Linked DNA regions of Homo sapiens: region 2 is linked to region 1. Evidence: fine-mapped expression QTL. A gene starts in region 1. The other region holds a variant in brackets. All regions are shown on one strand. Distances are between the middles of the regions.

What was found. PIP is the estimated chance that this variant, and not a neighbour inherited with it, causes the effect. A credible set is the group of variants that fine-mapping cannot tell apart.
Region 2: its variant is the best candidate, but not a certain one, in a credible set for the expression of TUBGCP3 in whole blood (GTEx, PIP 0.55).

What each region holds. Positions count from the first base shown.
Region 1 is chr13:112,586,757-112,589,671 of GRCh38, reverse strand. It overlaps TUBGCP3 (tubulin gamma complex component 3), which reads left to right and starts at 1,519. Exons shown (of 22, transcript NM_006322.6): 1 at 1,519-1,767. The coding sequence starts at 1,692. It overlaps LOC124903251 (a long non-coding RNA gene), which reads right to left and starts at 1,486. Exons shown (of 2, transcript XR_007063945.1): 1 at 256-1,486. RefSeq lists an enhancer at 704-1,523 and silencers at 1,589-1,808, 1,839-1,898, 1,929-2,048.
Region 2 is chr13:112,507,769-112,510,683 of GRCh38, reverse strand. The region is part of intron 17 of TUBGCP3 (tubulin gamma complex component 3); the gene reads left to right. Among named protein-coding and RNA genes, the nearest start is that of TUBGCP3, 79 kb to the left of the region's middle. RefSeq lists an enhancer at 2,146-2,915. The variant A/G (reference allele first, on the strand shown) is at 1,428.

The DNA.
Region 1 (2,915 bases):
TCTGAAACAAGGCACCCATTTTTTTGTGGGCTGACTAGAAAAGGTTAAAAATCCTTTGTCTCCATAGCATTCCAAAGTTATGAGCTACTCTATAAGCATACCTGCTATTGGTATAAAGATTAGCAGTTATTCCTTTTGCCAACTGACAGGCTCTAATTAATGCTATTAACTTTGCTTGTTGAGATGATTGCTCCTGGAAGACAAGCACTTTCTATTTCTTTGGGCAAAGACGCTATGGCATAACCAGTGTAATACCTTCCAGCTGCATCTTTAAGTAAGAGCCATCTGTAAACCAAATAACATCAGCGTTAGTGAGGGGGGTTCTTGCATGTCTGTCCTAGGAGAGAGCTGGTCAGGTAAGATGATGCAGTCATGCAGCGTTTCAGCTGAAGGTGGGGGAGAGGGTGGCAGGATTTAGATGACATCTGGACATTGTAGTATGCGGCTGAGAGAATAACTTCATGAGAAGCCAGTTACTAACTGATCGTGTTGAGTGTGATGCAAGTTTAGAAGCGTTTCCACAGAATGCGTATCGAAGGCAGTGAGGGGTGATCGCATCCTTGGTGGTTTGGTTGCTCTTGCAGAGCTGTGATGGTTGTTGCATCATGCAAGGAGACAGTCCTTTAGCTGTAGGGTCTAGTTGTTGACTGTAATACCCTACAAGTCTGCTTTGTCTCCATGTTTTTGAGTCAGAACGACAACAAACGTTTTACTTGCCAACAATTCTGCAACCTGAGCTGGACCCAGGCCCGACGGGCTTTGCAGACAGTCACGTGTGTGGCTGGCCTCAGCTGGGATGTTGGGATAGCTGGGTTGTCCTCCCTCTTCCATTTCATAGGATCTCGGGATCTCTTTCCATCATTTTTCCTTAGGAAGTTGGCCTTTTAACATGGTAGCTCACGGCTCCCAAGCGTGCACCCATGTGTAAGCTTTAACGATTGCACTGAAGTTGGCTTGGTGTAATTGTCTGCTTATCGATCTTTTTCTCGGCAGGTTTCCTGTTCTCTCACTCCGTACGTGATTAATTTATTTTCCCAGGACGTCCCAGTTACCCGGGCCGGGGGGGACCGGCCCGCGCGGCAGTGCGAGGTCGGGCCTGAGCAGGGCGCCTGTTGGATAGCGTAGCAGGTGAACTGCCCACTGCACGTTAACAATCGTAACACCCTGCACCCTTTAAACAGGCTTCTTTTTTCTTTTCTTTTTTAAACAGGCTTCTTTCATCAGAAGTGTGAATCAAACCAATGCCGTTAACACACACACCCCCACACCCACACACCAAATTATGGCCTTTATGGTGCTACCGGCCACCAAGTGCCCTCCAAGCAAGCCCGTCACGCTCGCGACTCCGGGGCCGCTCTGTCCGCGCAGCTCGAGGGCCTCGGGCCACCTGTCGCCCGGAACTTTCTCGGCCGACCGGGCAGCAGCAGGGGGAATGCACCAGACAGGGCCGGGAACGCTTAGGCAGCCGCACGCGCGGCCGCGGCGCAGGGAAGAAGCGGGGCATTGTGGGAAGCGCCCGCGCTTTCGGCGGGTTCCGTTAAAATGGCGCCCTGGTGGCCGGCGGCGCCCGCGCCTTAGCCTGTCAGGAGCAGGGAGCTTGCGGGGCGCAGGAAGGGCGCGGGCCGCGGTCCCTGCGCGTGCGGCGGCAGTGGCGGCTCTGCCCGGACCACCGTGCACGGCTCCGGGCGAGGATGGCGACCCCGGACCAGAAGTCGCCGAACGTTCTGCTGCAGAACCTGTGCTGCAGGATCCTGGGCAGGAGCGAAGGTAGAGTGGCCGGGCGACGCGAAGCCCGCAGACCCGTCCCGGGGGCTGCTCCCTGCGCGTGCAGCCCTAATACGTTCCGGGGCTGGAGGAACGAGGATGCAGGGCCGGGCAGAGGGCTGGGGGACGGGCCGAGGACGTGGGGCCCGGACGAGGGAGCGGAGGGCTGGGGTTCGAGGGTCAGGGAGCCGGGGAGGACAGCGGAGGGCTGGGGGCCAGGACCGGGGCGGAGGGAGTGGAGAGGCCAAGGCCGGGGCGAGAACGCCGGGGCGGGAGGCGGGAGGGCGGAGCCGAGCCGGAGCGGGCTGAGTCACCGCTCACTCCGCTCGCGGGTCCGTCAGTGAGGACGGGAGGAATGCCAGCTCGCCAATTTATCCCCCTTCTCTGGTGTCACGCGCCGTGGGAGGGCGCCTCTGCGCGCCTTTGGGTTCATCCTGTGGGGTGGAGAGAGCGGCTGCGCCGCGGAGGTGGATGCGGGGTGCTGGAGTGTCACATCATCGTCCCTTTTCGTTAGGAAAGTTTAACAGGCTTGAGTATTATGGGAAGAGGGTGTTAACGACTGTAACTGCCGTGTTTTCCTACTGTTTAAAGGGTTGAAGGTTGGATTTGATATAAAACTATTCTGGGAAAGTTCACATGGCGAATATTGTTACTAATAAGCAAAACTAATCCTATACGGTAGGTAAAACCATTTTGTAGTCGAGGTACTTTGAAAGAAATGGTACAGGATGCCATTTCTTGCTCCTTGTTTTGGCCAGGTTGGTGGGGCAGAGAGTGAGGATGCACCATGAGGGAATTTTCTGAGTAATGGAAGCAACTGAGTTACATCTTAAGCACCAAAATGTGGAAAAGAAGTTACTCAATTTTTGAAGGAAGACTTCAAAGTTACATTTAAAGTACTGAGAATGCATTTTGACCTTTCATGCTTCATGACAATTACTGTACATAATTCATTGGATGTTCTATGATAATCTTGGGGCAATCATGAATAATTTTGTGTCGCTATTAAATGAGTGACTTCACACAGTTCTTGCTGCATCTTGTAAAGTTTGATTCTATCACTTTATTTATCTAAGAAATCTTTGAGGACAACCCCGTCCTCAAAGTTCCCCCCGGGAACTGTGCTAAGTGCTGGTGATGCAGATGCACAA
Region 2 (2,915 bases), 79 kb after region 1:
CGACGGCACTTACTTCCTAGTGTTGCAGGATTAAGTCTGAGTGAAAGTACTTGGAACAGCACCTGCCTGTGGTGAGTGCCCCCAAGTTCACTGTTGCCGTGATTACTTGCCTGGGAGAGCAGGAATGCCGATGATGTAAGGATGAGATCCTCAAAGGTGGTTAGAGACTTTGAAAACAATCCTAGGTCTTAACAAATGTCATCTGGATCCTTAGTCTTGAGAAAAATAGATCAGATGGGTACTTTGATAAGGTCACTTTTAAATACAGTAAGGTCACTTTTAAATACATAAATACGGGTTGAGGAGGTGATTTTGAAATTGTGAACAAATTGTTTTAAGGTCTTTTCTAAAAAAAACAAATATCATGTTTAGCAGTACTCGATGCTATCTATAGGGGCATCTCCGCATGTGAGGGGGTTCTGGCGGAAGGTGCCTGAACAAGTCCTTAAGAGCCGGTGTTTGAGTCAAACTTGAAGTTCTTTCGACAGCCTTTAGGGGTCAGTGGAGAATTACAGAAGAGCCTGGCACTTAGCTGCTGCCCAAGCGGGAGGAGATAGTGGCTGCCCAGTTTTGTGTATCGGCCGTCCAGTGTGGCGTCGGCCCTGCAGGAGATGTGCATCCTGTATTCATTGGACCTTATTGCCAATGTTGCTTTGCTTTTGGGATTCTTATAATTATATAGTTACTTGTGGGTCAGCCATAAAAACACATTTAAAACATGTGCCTAAAATATATTTTCAGAGTGCTGGGTAAAGAGATCCTAGGCATGTTGGCAGGTGTAAATGGAATTTTTTAGGAACTAAAGGACTAATTGTGCCTTGTGAATTGAGTTCATAGTCATTACAGCCTTAGAGTAGTTAGAAGTTCAGAAATACTATTGCCTGTAGTGTTTAATTTCTCATTTGGGAAAGAAAAATAATTGTGATATTGTAGGGATTTCAGACTTCTGTCATGTGGATGGTTTTACGAGGTTTCTTTTCAGTAGCAGCGTCCTCAGCAGCAACCATATGTCTCTCACTGTCAAGGGGCTTTGTCTCAAAAGAAGACCATTGAAGATACTGTCCTCCGTACTCATTGTAGACACAATAAAAGATGATTTTTCTAGAAGGAAAACTGTATTCGCTGGTAGTACTTTAAGACTGTAAAAGGAAAGAACACCTATATTCACATTGTTGCTAAATTGACCTTGCTTATAGAAACCTTTTGAAAGGTGTGAGTTTGAGTACTCAAGATCTGGAGGAATGCAGACTGCCTGCTCTGACGTCCAGTGTCAACATCACGCATTCTTTCAGGAAATCATCATTGAGGGCCCACTTAGTGCTCCCTGTTGCTGGCTCCCAGTGACAAGGTGACAAACCAGCTCCCTGTGGCCAAGCAGCTCATGGCCTATTAGGGCAGAACAGATGTTTACACAGGATCTTACAGTC[A/G]ATCGATACGGGAAAATCCAAGTGGCATGGGAATGTTTAAATGAGGCATCTGACAGACGTGGGTGATTCCAGAAGGCTCCAGAGGTGATGGTGTCCAGGCTGGCCCCTGACAGGTGAGGATGAGCTGTTCGGGTCAGTGGGGAGGAGAGCAGCATGTTCAGCTAAGCTGTGGAGGGGGACTGTGCTGCAACATGGGGCTGGAGAGCCCAGCCACGAGCACGTCCTGAAGGTCTGGATTCAGGTAGTTGAGAATAATGAACCTGGGGCGCGACCGTGGTGATTAGCAGGGCAGCCAGTTGTAATAATCCGTGTGCGGTGACGTTGGCCTTTATGGTTACAGCAGCCGCGGGGCTGGAGGGAAGGGAATGGATTTGAGGGAGGCTTGGGCTGTGGCGCCAGCAGGACCAGGTGATGCGTGTACGGAGGCCAGGAGGTGGTTGGAGTCTCAGTGGCACCTGGGTCTCTGACTTGAGGACCTGGTGGGTGGTGGCATCTTTTACCACCCAGGGAGCACTGGAGGAAGAGCTTCTTTGGGGGGGATAGTGATTCCATTCAAATACGCTAATTTGAGTATTTTTTAGGATACCTTGTGAGGCCATTAATCAGACTGATCTTAAACTTAAGATAGATCTAGACTAGAGGTAAAGATTTTAGATGTCATCAGCCTGGATGATACTTGAAGTTGTGGAGTGGAATGTGGAAGGGACATCAGTGCGTGGGAACTGCAGTCTCACAGGGTGCCGTGGCTAGGAGGAAGATGGGGTTGGGGTGGGGGCTGTAGACCTGTCTGTCGTGGTGCACGATACCTTTTCAACTAACAGGCCCCTTCTGGGCTGCCATATGGCATCTGAAAATTTAAAGATATACTACAGAAGAGTTGGGCAAAATCAAAGTCAAAACTTCTAACGAAGTTAGACGCTTTGTTTGTTGGAAGGCTGTTTGAGATGCCGATATGGAGAAGGAGGGGGAGGCTGAAAATCACAGAGGAGGAATAGATGGATTCAGAGTGAGGGGATACGGGTTGGCCTTTTAAGTGTGTGCTAGGAGGGAGAGGCGGGCTTGGAGTGACTAGGGGGCACGAGGGATACAGGCAGAGCCAAAGCCATGACAGCGAAGCAATGCAAACCTGGTGGGGCCAGGGCTGCGGGATGCTGAGGCTGGGAGTGAGGGAGAGAAGGGGAAGGCCCCAGGCAGCACTGGGATGGGCTGGAGTGGGATGTCAGGAGTTTAGGCTGACACTGAGCATTGCATGACAGTGTTGTTTGGTAGATGGGTTTGTTTTGTTTTGTGGCCATTCAGTAGCATTTTTATTTCCCAGTGTGACATTAAAGAATCTAGAACATTAATCAGAGAAATTGTACACTCAAGAAAATCAAGAGATTCTGAAATAGAATTAGTGATTTAATCACTAATCACTGTGTATCTACTTTCAGACTGATTTGAAGCCGGAGAAAAAAATTCCTGGTTTCATAAATAGCGCAACAGTGA